2 separate regions of the Homo sapiens genome follow, and region 1 is linked to region 2. Evidence: fine-mapped expression QTL. A gene starts in region 2. The other region holds a variant in brackets. All regions are shown on one strand. Distances are between the middles of the regions. Region 1 overlaps PRRG4 (proline rich and Gla domain 4). Region 2 holds the start of EIF3M (eukaryotic translation initiation factor 3 subunit M).

What was found. PIP is the estimated chance that this variant, and not a neighbour inherited with it, causes the effect.
Region 1: its variant is the best candidate, but not a certain one, in a credible set for the expression of EIF3M in whole blood (INTERVAL, PIP 0.57).

Annotation. Positions count from the first base shown.
Region 1 is chr11:32,856,737-32,865,229 of GRCh38, forward strand. PRRG4 (proline rich and Gla domain 4) reads left to right here. Exons shown (of 6, transcript NM_024081.6): 6 at 1-1,384. Among named protein-coding and RNA genes, the nearest start is that of PRRG4, 31 kb to the left of the region's middle. The variant G/A (reference allele first, on the strand shown) is at 3,351.
Region 2 is chr11:32,580,136-32,588,628 of GRCh38, forward strand. It overlaps EIF3M (eukaryotic translation initiation factor 3 subunit M), which reads left to right and starts at 3,696. Exons shown (of 11, transcript NM_006360.6): 1 at 3,696-3,794; 2 at 6,877-7,009; 3 at 8,459-8,493. The coding sequence starts at 3,753. RefSeq lists enhancers at 3,407-4,059, 3,702-3,851 and silencers at 3,482-3,541, 6,572-6,671.

The sequences.
Region 1 (8,493 bases), 280 kb after region 2:
CATACCTTTGGTAGGACAGACAATTCCATATAGAATATTCTCTTTTGATAATGAAAAAAATTAAAGAGAGCACAAACTTTGACTATGTCAAAGTATTTTTATTTTTAATTTTTTGAGACAAGGTCTTGCTCTGCTACCCAGGCTGGAGTGCAGTGGTGCAATCACAACTCACTGTAGCCTGAACTTCGGGGCTCAAGCAATCCTCCCACCTCAGCCTCCTAAGTAGCTGGGACCACAGGTGCACCTCGGTACACCTGGCTAATTTTTGTGTTTTTTGTAGAGACAGGGTTTCACCATGTTGCCCATGCTGGTCTCTAACTCCTGAGCTCAAGGAATCCACCCACCTCGGCCTCCCAAAGTGCTGGGATTACAGGCATGAGCCACCACACTGGACTGCTGTGTCAAAGTTTTGCATCTTTTTTTTTTTTTTTTCCAGAAGGAGTCTCACTTTGTCACCCAGGCTGGAGTGCAGTGGAGTGATCATGGCTCACTGCAACCTCCGCCTCCCAGGTTCAAGGATTTCTCCTGCCTCAGCCTCCTGAGTAGCTGCATTACAGGCACCTGCCAGCACGCCTTGCAAATTTTTGTATTTTTAGTGGAGATGGGGTTTTGCCATGTTGGCCAGGCTGGTCTCAAACTCCTGACCTCAGGTGATCCGCCCGCCTCAGCCTCCCAAAGGGCTGGGATTACAGGCGTGAGCCACTGTGCCTGGCCCCAAGTTTTGCATCTTTTAATGCCCTCTGAACAAATACATAGAGAAAACTCTCAGAACAATTAAAACCTGCAGAGCAACAGTGTCCTCCATGTCTTAGGTTTCAAGTTTGCCTCTAAAATTCTAATCCATATTTTTCTACTTCTCAGATAATTTATGTGTGTGTACTCTTCCTAGACGTACAAGAGACTTTTTAATGCTAAATATTTGTCAGTGCTTAACAAAAACTCAATTTCACATTACTCATATTGTTTTTGTTTTAATTGAATGTGAATTAAATTTTTATTAGTTATTTGATTTGGAATGTTATGTATGCCATTAACACTATTAGGGGAATCTCTAGCATTTCTGTATTTTTAAAGAATTTGATTCTTTTGTAGATTCTGCCTGTGTGGTCATTTTAAAACATGTGTGACATATATCAGTACCTTCATTCTTCTATATTTTGTGTCTCCTCCAACCTCCAACTTTTTTTGTTTTTTGAAAAATGTTTCTCTAACACCTCAACAGTTTAAGGTAATTTAGTACACATATATCAGTATTTTTGTGATCTGAAAAAGCAACCCATTTTCTAAATTCATATTTTTCCTAAAACTTTACTATGTTTTTATTTTAAGAGGTTTCCTGTTATATACACTTTTTACACATGCAAATAAACTTTATACCAAGTGAGTATTTATTGCTTGTTTCATTTAAGCATTCTTCCTCATATAATGGCATATAATGAAATATGATATTATATTAATTAAATTTGAACAACACATTGAGTGTTTTCAAAACAATATTTATAGCATGATGTCAATGTATATCTTTCACCCAATGGGGCTAGCATTCTATTTAGACAATTTAGTTGCAGTTGTGAAAGTGGTATTTTCTTTAACAAAATTTAAATATTTAATATAGTGTTTGAGGCAAATATATTACTCCTTAATACTAAAGTTATTTTTTGAGCTATATCTATACATAATTGAAAAAATCAGTAGTAATGTTATGCTAAATTATAAGAGTAATATAGCAAGACTTCCAGCTTAAAAGAAGTAATACGAAGTATCATACACATAAGTGAACATTGATTATTATTCAGTATTATTTAATGTTAAACATTTAGACCACCTTAAATTTTTTTGGATCCAAATGAGTTAGACATGAATGTTAATATTTATACTCCTTAAAATTACTTTTATCAAGAGAATGAGAAGACAAGCTACAGACCAGGAGAAGATATTTGCAAAAGACATGTATGATAAAATGTGTCCAAAAATAAACAAAGACCTCTTACAACTCGACAACAAGAAAACAAACAAGTCAATTTAAAAATGGGCAAAAGACTAAGACACTTCACCAAAGAAGATATGCAGATGGCAAGAAAGCATATGAAATGATGTTTGACATCATAGGTTATTAGGGGATTACAAATGAAAGCAACAGTGAGATGTCACTACACACCTATTAATATGCCCCAAATCTAAAACACTACCACCACAAAACATCCTGCTGGTGAGGATGTGGAACAACAGGAACTCTTGTTCATTGCTGGTGGGAATGCAAAATGGTATAGCCACTTTGGAAGACAGTGGTAGTTTCTTACAAAATTAAACATACTCTTACCATATCATCCAGCAATCATGCTCCTTACTATTTACCCAATAGAGTTGGAAACTCAGGCCCACACAAAAACCTGCACACAGGTGTTTGTAAGCAGTTTTGTTCATAATTGCCAAAACTTGGAAGCAACCAAGATGTTCTTAAGTAGGTGAATGGATAAATAAACTGTGGCACATCCAGACAATGGAATGAGAAAGACTTTCTAATTCTTTTTTAGAGACAGGGTTTCACTCTGTTGCCCAGGCTGGAGTGCAGTGGTGCAATCATAGCTCACTGCAGCTCACTGCAGCCTCAAACTCCTGGGCTTACATTATCTGCTCACCTCAGCCTCTGGAGTTTCTGGGTTTACAGGCTCTAGGAGTATGACTTTTTAAGATTCCACATATAAGTAAGATAATATGATATTTGTCTTTCTAGGCAATGCGAGTTAGCATGTATTGAACACTATACTAGTTTTCTATTGCTTCATAACAAAATACCACAAATTAGCAGCTTCAAACAACACACATCCCACAGTTTCTATCAGTCAGAGTCCAGGCACAGCTTAGCAGAGTCCTCTACTTAAGCTTTGACAGGGTTGGAATCAAGGTGTTGGCCAGGGTTGGAGTCAAGGTGTTTTCATCTGGAGGCTTTACTATAGAAAACTCCACTGTGAAGTCTCTCTTGAATTATTAGCAGAATTCATTCTGATGCATCTGTAAGACTGAAACCCTTTATGGGCAGGAGACAATAAGGCAACCATAGCTCCAGAAGCTGCCTGCTGTTCCTAGAACCTACCTGTAGTTCCTTGCCACATCAGCTTCCTCCTCATGGCCCTCACTCTGTCAAGCCAGCAAAGAGACCTCTAGAGTGTGCCTGCTATAAAATGAGGCCTTATATAATATAACATCTTCACAAGAGTGACATCTCATCACCTTCTATTGGTTAGAAAGAAGTCATGGGTTTTATTAACTCATCAGGAGAAGATTCTACAAAGGAGTAAATACCAGAAGTGAGCAAGCCTTGAGAATCACTTTAGGTTCTGTCCACCAAA[G/A]GCCCTATCATGTGCCAGTTTCTAGGCCTTCATGTGCCTTCCATATGATCTTTCCTTTCATATAAGCATATTTAAAAAGTCTTTCAGGCTGGGCATGGTGGCTCATGCCTGTAATCCCAGCACTTTGGGAGGCTGCGGTGGTTGGACCACCTGAGGTCAGGAGTTGGAGACCAACCTGGCCAACATGGTGAAATCCCATCTCTACTAAAAATACAAAAATTAGCCAGGCATGGTGGCATAAGCCTGTGATCCCAGCTACTTGGGAGGCTGAGGCAGGAGAATCACTTGAACCTGGGAGGCAGAGGTTGCAGTGAGCCAAGATTGGGCCACCACACTCCAGCCTGGGTGACAAAGCAAGACCTTGTCTCAAAAAATAAATAAATAAATAAAAAGTCTTTCAATTGTAAAGTCATATAAATATCATATAACAACTAATGCTAATATCTTATTGTTTCTTGAAAACCTTGTAATGTCTCACTATTTACTAATTTTACCTGTTCATTTTTCTACAATTCCTAGCATTAAATAGCCATAAACTGATTAAAGTGCTTATATCAGAGACAATAAATTGAGAGCAGCTTGGGAAACTGGTCCTACTCCTTAGCTGACCAAGGCAGATTCACCCAGATGGAAAGGAGCTGAAGAAGATCAGATCAAACCCACAGTCCTAGCATATCCCTGAATGTCTTCTTTACCCCACATTTGATTTATAACATGGCTGTGTATCGTGTTCTAGGTTAATAATCATTTCCCTTGGCATTTTGTAGATATTCCTCTAATGTCTTCTAGCATTTGATTGCAATCAAGAATTCTAACAATAATTCTGATTTCATGACTTTGCACATGACCCTTTATTTCCCACTGGAACCTTTCAAATCTTTTCATCCCTGGTGATCTCAAATTCATGAGTCTGTCCAGGCATGGTGCCTCATACTTCTAATTCCAACACTTTAGGAGGCTTGAGCCCACGAGTTTGAGACCAGCCTAGGCAACATAGTGAGACCTTGTCTCTACAAAAAATTTTTTTAAAAATTAGCTTGATGGTACAAACTCCATACTACTCTGGAGGCTGAGGTGGGAGAATCACCTGAGCTTGGGAGGTTGAGGCTGCAGTGAATTGTGATTGGGTCACTACACTCCAGCCTGAGCAAGAGAGCAAGACATTGTCTCAAAAAAAAAAAAAAAATAGCTGGGTGCGATGGCTCATGCCTGTAATCCCAGCACTTCGGGAGGCTGAGGCAGGCAGATCTCTTGAGCTCAAAGTTCAAGATCAGCCTGGGCAACATAGTGAAACAACATCTCCACCAAAAATACAAAAAAAAATTAGCCAGGCGTGATGGTGCCTGCCTGTGGTCCCAGCTACTCGGGAGGCTGAGGCAGAAGGGTCAACCGAGCCTGGAAGGTGGAGGTTGCAGTGAGCCGAGGTTGCAGTGAGCCAAGATTGCACCATTACATTCAAGCCTGGGTGACGGAGTGAGACCCTGACTCAAAAAAAAAAAAAAATTATGATTCTGAGGCTTGGGATAAGTTTTCATTTATTGTTCATGGCATCCAATACCTCCTTTTATTCTAGAGATCTGTGCCCTCCAATTCTAGGAAATACTCCTGTGTAATTTTTTGCTAGTTTCCTTACCTTTGTTTTCTCTGCTTTTTCTGCGATTCATATTGGCTGAATATTGTACTTCCTTGATTGATCCACTATTTTCCATTTCCTTCTCTGTTCTACTTTCAGCATAAGTGTAACTGAACCCAGGTTCAACGGCTTGCTGCTAGAAAGCCAGACACAAGAGACAAGGGTTGATGGGAGGAAACCAGGTTCATTCAGAAAACCAGCAAAATTGACAAGATGGTGAACTGTATGCTAAAGCACCATCTTAAATTTTCAGGTTGGCTGGAGAGTTTTTATGGGAGGGGAATAAAGCGAAGAGGAGGGGGTTGGGATCAAGAGGTGACCGAGGACTGCAGATATCTGGGCACCAGCAAGGGTCAGAGGAGGTTGGAAACTTCTTTGCCCTTGGTCAGTTCACAATGCTCCTGTAAATCTTTAACAAAACATAGTTAGTTGTTTAGATACTTACCCTTTAATCCCAGACTTAGTTGTAAAAATTACATGATTACTGTTTTTGCATATTATTTCAGTGCTCTAAAATTAGCTGGAATGGTGGAAGGCCACTTAAACAAAAATTGAGTTAGTTATGTTAGTTCTTTGCTATTTCACTGTTACAATTCCCCACTGTGAAAGGCTCATTCCACAGTCTTGTGGAATTAGGGACAATGGGATGTTGTCTCTCATCTGGCTACTCCCTGTTGAACAAGGTTCATGTGGGGCAACTGTGAAACCAAACCATTTGACCTGGTAGCAAGCTGACGTTCAGGTCCTTGTTCCTTTCAGGTTTTTAGGAGGACCTGATCTCCCAGTTGAGAAGGATGGAGGGCCATGTTTGTGGAATAAGTGATCCTGCTAGAAGCAAACTCATGAATAGAATTTAGTATAGTGCCTAGAGTCTTAACATATTTGGCAATTGCTAAATTATTTATTTCGAGTTTGGTTCATTTTTTTTTTAGTTTTTCCCATTGATCATGGTCTCCAAGATGACAATCTAAAGGTTGAAGGAAGGAGCAAGTCATAGATTTCCCTGACATTTTCATAACCATCATAGTCTTCTGTGAATCAGGGCATAGATAGGTACTAGCTATAGAATATGTGGCCCTCATATCCGTAAGTAAATAAACCTGTTCCTCACTCTCAATTGTAACCAGGGCCCCTGTGGGGATATTGACAGGTTGGCTAAATATACATATTTAGCAGGTTACAGAAGGAACTATAAATATTTATGAAGGTGGTCCTGACACATGCATATTGAACAAACATATATGTAACATATGACCCATGTTTTCCTTGGAGTGGAGACTTAACTCTTGCCTGGCATGGCCTTAGGTCCTATTTATACTTTGGTATCTTATTGCCACAAAGAGTTTATGTTTTAATGTTAACTCTGGTCAGTTGCTGTGTCTAAACCATAAAAGGAAAAGGGTATAATGAAGTGTGTCTGACCTCCTGTCCTCTCATGGCTGGGAACTATGTTTTTTTTTTTAAGTTTTTTTTCTTGGGGGTTCACTTGGTCAAGGGGGATCCATTCGATTGGTGGGGTGCTTAGGACTTCATTTTTTAGTTTAAATTTCTGTTTTTTGATCAAGATATGCCAGAGGCAGCATCAATGGCTAAACTTTTATTTTGTCCCATATTGTTGCCAGGATGGTGTGGCTACCTGACCCAGGTCCATCATGTCCCTTGGTGGGATCCCTATGGCCAAGGGACTTAGAGTAAAAAAACTTATAGCTAATTAATCATTCTAAGCCAGATGGGAATGGAAGTGAGTAGACACTTAACCCTTAAAACCCTTTTAAGTAACAAAAGAGCCAAAAACCAAAAACCAAAAGGCAAGGTTACAAAATTGACTTATGTAAAAGCTTTACATGTTGAAAGAATTAGCAATGTTTATTTGATTTTGAGGACATTTGTCAAAGATGTAAAAAGCCTCAAAATATTTGATAAAAACAGAATAGTTATTCATTTAATCAAGAGTGACAGTCAAAATACTTCAAGAGCAATACAGAAAGTGACATGAAGATACAAATTTTAACCATTTTATTTATTTTTATTTTTTTGAGATAGGGTCTCACTCTTGCCCAGGCTGGTATACAGTGGCACGATCTCGGCTCACTGCAACTTCTGCCCCCCAGCCTCAAGCAATCCTCCCACCTCAGGCTCCCCTGAGTAGCTGGGACCACAGGCGTACACCACCACACCCAGCTATTTTTTTAATATTTTTTTGTAGAGACAGGGTTTCACCATGTTGCCCAGGCTAGTCTCAAACTCCTGAGCTCAAGTGATCTGCCTGCCTTGGCCTCCCAAAGTGTTGGAATTCCAGGCATGAACCACTGTGATTGGCCTTAACTCTTTTAAAGCTCAAGTTTCCTAAGGAAGCAAAAAATTAATACAGACAATATAGGAATTATCTTTTTTATTTTATTTTTATTTTTTTGAGGCAGAGTCTTGCTCTGTCGCTCAGGCTGGAGTGCAGTGGCACTATCCCGGCTCACTGCAACCTCCACCTCCCAGGTTCAAAGGATTCTCCTGCCTCAGCCTCCCGAGTAGCTACAAGTACGCGCTACCACACCTGGCTAATTTTTATATTATTAGTAGAGACGGGGTTTTGCCATGTTGTCCAGGCTGGTCTCGAACTCCTGACCTCAAGTGATCTGCCCACACTGACCTCCCAAAGTGCTGGGATTACAGGCATGAGCCACCATGCCAGGCCAGGAATTATCTTAATAAAATGCAAAATCTTGTTTCTTAAGCCATTTGCCAGAAAGGCAAAGAGAAAACATTTGCAGTGTGATTGCTTCTCCTTATGAGAAGCCCATTTAGATAACCTAGAAATCAAACCTGAAGAATAGAGTACCTGAACTTAATCAGACACAGGAAGAGTGTTTTCAAAGTTATGAGTATAGCATAGCAAGGGAATACATGACTCTTAGTAATTGCATGAGAAGTTTCCTAATTACATTTAAAAATTTAGACATATCAAGAAAAGTCAAGAGTACAGAATCAAGCTATACTGGAGGAAAGCATTGCTTTTTCAGACCTTCAAGATACCACTTTTCAGCATCAGGCCACAACAACAGTTAGAACCAGAGGAAAAAAGTTACAGAAGCTGATAAAAAAGCAGAAGGAGAGATTTCTCATTTCAGGCCTTCTCAAGAGGAGAATAAGCTGAAAGCAGTGAGACACAACAAAAGCTGAACTTCTAAGATATGAATCTGAAAAGTTTTCAAAAGAAACAGTTTCAGAATTAAAAATCAAAATGTCTTATAATTTCACTAAGATTGGCCGGGCATGGTGGCTCATGCCTGTAATCACAACACTTTGGGAGGCCGAGGCAGGTGCATCACCTGAGGTCAGGAGTTCGAGACCAGCCTGGCCAACATAGTGAAACCCTGTCTCTTCTAAAAATACAAAAAATTAGCTGGGCTTGGTGGCAGGTGCCTGTAATTCCAGCTACTCAAGAGGCTGATGCAGGAGAATCACTTGAACCTGGGAGGCAGAGGTTGCAGTGAGCCAAGATGGCGCCATTGCACT
Region 2 (8,493 bases):
TTTTAGATATTACTGTCATGCAAAGCATTCTTGTAAAAAATATAACTTTGCTCCAATAATACAATTTCAAGCAAATATATTAATATGGCTCTTGCAAATAGAATACTTAAAAACATAGTTAAATCCACATTTTCCGGAATTTTTAATCAGAAAGGAGATAACAAAGGGAACATAGACAAATTAAACAATAAAGAAAAACTGTACATATTTGGTTGTATTTTTCAGGTAAAAATTAAACTAAGATAATACTGCCTTGCAGATGGTGGGGCTTTGTTCAACTCCCTGGTGATTCCTTTTCCTTTTTTTTTTTTTTTTTTGGAGTCTCACTCTGTCGCCCAAGCTGGAGTGCAGTGGCGTGATCTCAGCTCACTACAACCTCCACCTCCTGAGTTCAAGTGATTCTCCTGCCTCAGCCTACCAGGTCCCAGCTAATTTTTGTATTTTCAGTAGAGACAGGGTTTCACCATGTTGGCCAGACTGGCCTGGAACTCCTGGCCTCAAGTGATCCACCTGCCTTGGACTCCCAAAGTGCTGGGATTACAGGCATGAGCCACCGCACCAGCCAAGCTTTTAAAGAATTAAAGTTAGTTTTATTCAGAGGTCTTACCGAGGATTGCAACCCAGAGAGTCTTCCAGAGAGTTTCTGTTAAACTGCTCCAAAGCAGTGTTTCCGCACACAGTTTGTGTACATCAGTGGTGGCTCTGCCTGTGCTCAGAAGTTACATTAAATGTGCTCAGAAGTTACATTAGAGCGAAATCACATCATGGTTTGGGTGCCAGGGTCCATCTGGTTATAGATTATGGAGACATAATCATTATTGCTGTCAGACATGGGTGTGCATTATACCCATGCACATGAAGAGGCAGAGGCTAGGATCATTGAACTTATGTTTTCTAAAACTGCAGTGATTCAGGCAAGAGAATGGGGACCTGTGCTCTATCCTGTTTATCTTTAGGGTATTCTTCCAGAGGGTTGCCCTCACTCACTGAGTCAGGGGCTTTGCGAAATTCTCTGGCAAACAGAATGAGCAAACATTCCTTCTTAGGTTTGCTACTTTGTCTCACAAGATTCATCCTGACCTAGGTGAGGACAGGCATTTCCTACTCAAATGTTGCATTTCCCAAGACTACTCGGGCCTACCACACCTCCATCCTGTGTGTGTGTGTGTGTGTGTGTGTGTGTGTTTATTTTGAATGAATGAAAGTTTAAAGTTTTAAATAACTGAGGACAGGCATTTCCGCATTTCCTACTCAAATGTTGCATTTCCCAAGACTACTCGGGCCTACCACACCTCCATCGTGTGTGTGTGTGTGTGTGTGTGTGTGTGTGTGTGTGTGTGTTTATTTTGAATGAATGAAAGTTTAAAGTTTTAAATAACTGTCCATATCCTCTCTCAAGAATTTCCCTGGGTGTTCTTTTACTTCACAAGGATCACAGAATGAAAAAAAAAATAACAATAGTAAAAAAGAGACAAGTCTTTTAAATATTTGATAAAATGGTATTGTATTGTTGAGTTTGTATTCCTCGAACTTTGCAATAATAAGGCGAGGGGAGGAGCCCAGGGATTATTCCTTCAGAATCAACTGGTATTTCCTGATGATCTGCTGTGGGCTGGGCACTGAGGTGGGTGCGGAAATGCAGGGTGAACATGACACAGGTTCCCTGCCTTCAGTTTCACTTTCCACATTGTTAAGGCTATTCCATGCAAGAATGAATCCTTTCAAATTTAGTCTAGCCAGATGTTTTGTGTCCTCTATCCCCTCAACCTTGTTTTTTTCCTTTGCTTGGCATTTATTTTATATTGAAGTATAATTGTGGTATCAATAAACTGCACATTTTTGAACTGCACACTTTGAAAAATGTTATATATGTATACAATCATGACACAATCACAGTCAAAATAATGAACACATCCATAACCCCCAAAAACTTCCTCAAGCCCCTCTGTATCCATCTTTCCCCCCGCCTTACCCAATCCCTGCCCCCAGGCAACAGCAATCTATAATGCTGTCATTATAGTTTCTACTTTCTAGAGTTTTATATAAATGGAATCATACAGTATGATGATTAACTGAACAAAATTATTTTGAATTATTTTGGGATTGTCAACTAAAGAAAAAAAATCAAGCTTTTATTTTAAGAGATGGAGTCTCACTCACTTTGTCACCCAGGCTGAAGAGACTGAAAAAAAAAAAAGATTCATCTGTGTTTTTGCATGTATCAATAATTCATCCTTTTTTGTTGCACAGCAGTATTCCATTAAGCAGATGTATAACAATTTTTTGATCCACTTCATTCATCTATTGATGAACATTTGGGTTGTTTCCTTTTTTTTGGCTATTGAAAATAAAGTGTTAACTTTTTGGAAACTGTCTCCTGAAAAAGCTAAACATAAATTTACTAAATAAGCCACTGATTCCTCTCATAGGTACATACCTAAGAGAAATATACGTACACACAAAATCTTGTGCACTAACGTTCATGGAAACATTATTCATAATAGCCAAAAAATGGAGACAACCCAAGTGTCCACCAACTGATGAACAAATCAACACAATGTGGTATATCCATAACAATGCAATATTATAAGCAATAAATAGGAATATAGGAGGGATACATGGACGAACCTTGAAAACATTATGCTAAATGAAGTAAGTCTGACTTAGGCCACCGTGTATTTTGTGATTCCACTTACATGAAATGTCCAGAAAAGGCAAATTCATAGAGACAAAATGTAGTGTTTGCCAGGGGCTGGAGAGAGGTGGGGCCGGGGGTCTGGGGAGTGATTGCTGATGGGTAGTTTCTTTTGTAGGTGATGAAAATGTTCTAAAATTAAATAGTAGTGATGGTTGTGCAACTCTGAAAATACTAAAAACTACTGAATTGTGTATTTATTTTATGAGACGGAGTCTCGCTCTGTCGCCCAGGCTGGAATGCAGTGGCATGATCTGGGCTTACTGCAACCTCCTTCTCCCAGGTTGAAGTGATTCTCCTGCCTCAGCCTCCCGAGTAGCTGGGATTACAGGCGCGCACCACTATGCCCCGGTAATTTTTGTATTTTTAGTAGAGACGGGGTTTTGCCATGTTGCCCAGGCTGGTCTCCAGTTCCTGACCCCAAGTGATCCGCCCACCTCGGCCTCCCACAGTGCTGGGATTACAGGCGTGAGATCCACTGCGCCCAGCCAAAGCTGCTATTTTTTAAAAGCGGCAATGAACATTCTTGTACAAGTCTTTGTACGGACATACAGTTTGGGTAGAAGAATAGCTGGGTCATATGCTGGGTGGATACTGAACTTTTTCAGAAACTGCCGCTCCTCTGCAAAGTGACTGCACCATTTTATGTTCCCAACAGCAGTACAGGAGAGTTTCAGGTCTACACAAACCCATCCATACTTGGTAAGACCCAACAAGCTTAACATTTCAAGGGAAGGTGGACTTAGGGAGGCGCCAGCGGGAGGCAACATCAATGCAGTTAGCTACACGGGCCTGAAAACTGGAGGCCGCGACAAGCGTCGCTGAGTGGAGGCCCAGTAAGTCCCACCCACTAGGCCAGCCCGAGCGCGTCTGCCACGCCCTGCTGCATTCCGCGGCGAGAGCGCGCGATAGGATTGGCTCTCAAGGCCCCGCCCCAACAGGTCGCCGCTCAGGGTGACCCGGAAGCAGTTGCGCCAGCAGCGTCGCGCGGCCCAGTTCCCTTTTCCGGTCGGCGTGGTCTTGCGAGTGGAGTGTCCGCTGTGCCCGGGCCTGCACCATGAGCGTCCCGGCCTTCATCGACATCAGTGAAGAAGATCAGGTGTGCTTCGGTCTACGGGTGCCGCCACGGTGGGGTGGGGGATGTCCTAGTAGCGCAAGGGACCGCTGCCGAGCCTGGGCCGGGCGGCCGGGGCTGACACCCGCAGCTGTTCTACACGCGAGAATGGGGAGGCCGGTGGCTGGGGCGCGCGTTCCTGGCCTCGATTCGCACCAGCTCGCCGGCCGGCGGTCCCAGCGCGGGGCCCGACGCTTCACCGCCAGCTCCCTGGTCGGCGTCGGGACTCATTTCTGACGACATAGTACTTTTAGACTGATGAGGAATGATGTCTGCTTCCGTCCGTCAAATGCAGCCACATTCGGAGTGGGAGGTGGTGAATCTGTAGTTAGCATAAGCAGGGTAGGGAAAAGTAATTTTGTGCTAAAGATCAAAATGCCGGGCCGGGCGCGGTGGCTCACGCCTTTAATCCCAGCACTTTGGGACGCCGAGGCGGGCAGATCACGAGGTCAGGAGATCGAGACCATCCTGGCTAACACGGTGAAACCCTGTCTCTATTAAAAATACAAAAAAATTACCCGGGCGCGGTGGCACGCGCCTGTAGTCCCAGCTACTGCCGAGGCTGAGGCAAGAGAATCGCTTGAACCCGCGAGGCGGAGTTTGCAGTGAGCCAAGATCGCGCCACTGCACTCCAGCCTGGGCGACAGAGCGAGAGTCCCTCTCAAAAAAAAAAAAAAAAAAAAAGATCAAAACGCCCGTATTACTGTGCGATCACAGGCGAAGACGACCCGTATTTTACACTTGCTTTCTATTCCTACTTGTATGAGGGTGAGAGTTGTTCTGTACCCCGGAAGTATGGTATCAGTTCAGCTCTTAAATTCTGTGAGGCATACACCTGATGGACCATCCTGATATTTTTAAATTTCCCGTTTGGCGTTTGCTCTTTGGTATACAGGGCTGATGGTTCTCATTTTCCCCATAACAAAAGTTTAACCTTATTTGGTAGGAGTTGAACACGACATCGTATTCTTTAAGTTAATTTTGTATTGCTGAAAATTCTTCTGTGAAGTCCTAACTTTGTCGTTTTATTTCTGTTACTCCACTAACACGGAAGTAACTTCCAAATGATTGGATATCATAAACTTCGCATGGAAGTTTACTTGTCTAAGACAACTTACAGAATTGCGGGAGTGAGTTCCCCCTCTCTCCTCCCCCCGCCCCATGGTAGGAATGCAGTTCCGATGCTCTGAAGAGCAAAGTAAGAAGGGAAAATGCAAAAGGCGGAGAAAAGGTCAAGGATGGGGAGGTTAAGCACAGATAGGAAGATATGAAAGACAAAAAGATACCTGATTAGAAATGGAAGCATGTTACCAACAGTTGGCTGTTAGGTTAACTGAGAAAGTGTTTGGAATTTTTTTTTTTTTAACATACAAAGTGAATGGAGGAAGTTCTTGTCATTGATCGTATCTTAAAGTGTCTTTTCTCAGGCTCTGCTTCTGTTCTTGTAACATCAGTATCGCTGTAGACAGTCCTTTCAGGGAAATATGAAATTGCTCAGGATTAGTTTAACTTTGGTGAAATTCTCAGCTTGATTAGAGTTAAATGGAATTCTTTATCTTTTTTTGTTTTCCTTTGCTTATGCTGCTTCCACAACCACTTGTGGCAGTGAGGATGACAGAAAAACAGCAAACGTGGTTCAATAGTTCTTAGAAAAAGTTTGCTGTGTATCTGTTTCCTCCATAGAGAAGCATGAAGCATGATTTCTGGAGGTATTTTTGTTTTCTCTGACATGGTGACAGTTTGTTTTCTTTTTTTAATTTTGCTTATAATACCAACTCTTCTATGAAGTTACTGTGTTCTTGTTACCTGAAAGGATAGTACCGTCAGATCTGCAGGTTTAATACTTTCCTGAGGCAACTAAATATACTTGGGGGTTTAAAAATCTTGATGGCTTTGAATTTTTTTTTTTTGGCTTGGTCTAGAAAATGTAATGCCTGTGCATTTACTAATGGTATCCTTTCATATTCCTGTTGCACATCCTCATTTTATTATCTTTAAAACCAGGCTGAGCACGGTGGCTCACGCCTATAATCTTAGCACTTTGGGAGGCCGAGGCCCGTGGATCACCGGAGGTCAGGTGTTTGAGACCAGCCTGACGAACATGATGAAACCCTGCCTCTACTAAAAATACAAAATTAGCTGGGCATGGTGGCGCATGCCTGTAATCCCTGCTACTTGGGAGGCTGAGGCTGGAGAATCATTTGAACCCCGGAGGCAGAGGTTGCAGTGAGCCGGGATCGCTCCATTGCACTCATGCTATTGCACTCCAGCCTGGGCAATAAGAGTGAAACTCCATCTCAAAACAAAACAAAAAAAAACTGCGTTTGTTTGGCTGCCATAAAGAGTCCCAGAAGAAAAATGGAATAAATATATATAATTCGGTAGTAGGGTAGGAAATGTCCAAGTGACTGAATGTGCTATTGTAGTTGTGTTTTTATAGGTCCGAAGATGCATGCTGACTCAGATATGCATTTTTAATTTTAAGAGATTAGTTACATAACAGATCCAGTTCGATGTAATTTTAAGGCAGCATTCACCGCATTGCCCTTTTGTGAACCAAAATGCTTATCTCAAATAGCTTCTCAACTGATTAACAAATGATTACCCTTTTGCCAAGGTAATGTCTGTAACTTTTCTAGTAGCTGTGGTTATGTGTGTACTTGAGAGCAATACTATTGTTCATTTCTTTCAAAAAAATGAAATCTGCCAAGTCAGATTGATTTCTTCTCCCCAGCAACCACACCCCCACCAAACCCTTTGGGTTATATTATCAAAAAGATTTTTGCTGTATGCTGGAAGTCCAGCAGGGTGCAGACTACATGAGAGAAATTCTGAAGGTGATCCATGGGGGCTGTAGTGTGTCTAAGGAGCCACTGGACCTCATGGAGGAAAACCTGTGGCTCTTGTGGGATTGCCAAGATGGATGAGGTGAGGGAGGGGTCTTCAACATTATTTGAAATAGTTGTTGAATACAGTATTTCCGTTTTAGTTTTTCAGAAAGAGGACAGAATTTGAGATTGTGCTTTGTCATTCGTAGTCAGTTTTATAATAGAGCAATCCTCAACAGGCTGCTGAGCTTCGTGCTTATCTGAAATCTAAAGGAGCTGAGATTTCAGAAGAGAACTCGGAAGGTGGACTTCATGTTGATTTAGCTCAAATTATTGAAGCCTGTGATGTGTGTCTGAAGGAGGATGATAAAGGTTTGTTTTTAATTTTTTTCTAATATTTCCTAATAAAATCTTTTAAATTTTTCTTGTGAATTATAGAGTCGTCCCTCATTATCTGAGGCAAGGAGGATTTGGAACCCTCAGATACAGAAGGCTGACTGTATTTATATGTTTTGAATTTCAGACTACAGGACTTTTAAATAGATAGGTAGTGGTTGTATGTATTTTGGGGGCACAGGTGATATTTTGATACATGTATGCAATGTGTAATTATCAAATCAGGGTAATTGGAATATCACACATCTTTTCTTTATGTTGGAAACATTCAACAGTTCTCTTCTAGCTCTTTCAACTATACAATACATTGTTAACCAGAGTCTAAGCACTGTTGTTTTCAATCTTACCTTCACACATGCTTTCAGTTTGTGTAATCTATTATACCTATAAAGTAAACCTATTTTGAGAAAACCTTTATTTTATACATAGGTGTATTTCTTAAGTGTTATTACACTAAATGCTTATAGTCTTAGAATAAAATGAAAAAAATGAAGCTCTTTCCTGTTCATAAGTTTCAGATTAACATCAAATGGGATACAGTTTCAAGTAATCTAATAGCCATTTAATTATTAGGCCAGTTTCCTGTTTATTGAGATAGAATGGGAAATTTTCAGAATTGTTGAGTTCGGAAATCTCTAGTTAAGGTTTAGAGATCAAACTTGGATGCTGATTTCGGCAGCACATATACAAAAAAATTAGATTAAATTTGGGATATGATTAATATCTGTAATACTTAAAAATAACTAATTCAAGCAGAGAGCTGACAGCTTTAATTTCTGATTTCCTATATGTATACACAAAGTTTTCCTTAATTAAGAAAGTATCCTAGTCCTAAATCATACCAGTAACTTCCAAATGATTGAATATCATGACAGTGAAAATTGAAACTTTATATACATGTAAATCAGTCTCTGTTTTACTAGTTAGAAACCACATCATAGGCCAGGCATAGTGGCTCACGCCTGTAATCCCAGCACTTTGGGAGGCCGAGGCAGGTGGATCACATGGTCAAGAGTTCAAGACCAGCCTGGCCAATATGGTGAAACCCCGTCTCTACTAAAAATACAAAAATTAGCCGGGCGTGGTGGCGGGTGCCTGTAGTCCCAGCTACTTGGGAGGCTGAGACGGGAGAATCGCTTGAACCTGGGAGGCGGAGGTTGCAGTGAGCCGAGATCGCACCACTGCACCCCAGCCTGGGCAAGAGAGCAAGACTTCATCTGAAAAAAAAAAAAAAAAAAAAAAAGAAACCACATCTTAGGTATCAATTTCCTTCCTCTTTAATAAAATATACAAGTTGCTTTCTGAATGCGAAAGTGTCTTACATTTGATGGTCTTCATTGTATTAAAACACTGGAAATGCATATTTAACTAGACGCATTGAGTATTGTAGTATCACTGTTGATTGTGTTATCCATACTTGTGTAGATGTTGAAAGTGTGATGAACAGTGTGGTATCCCTA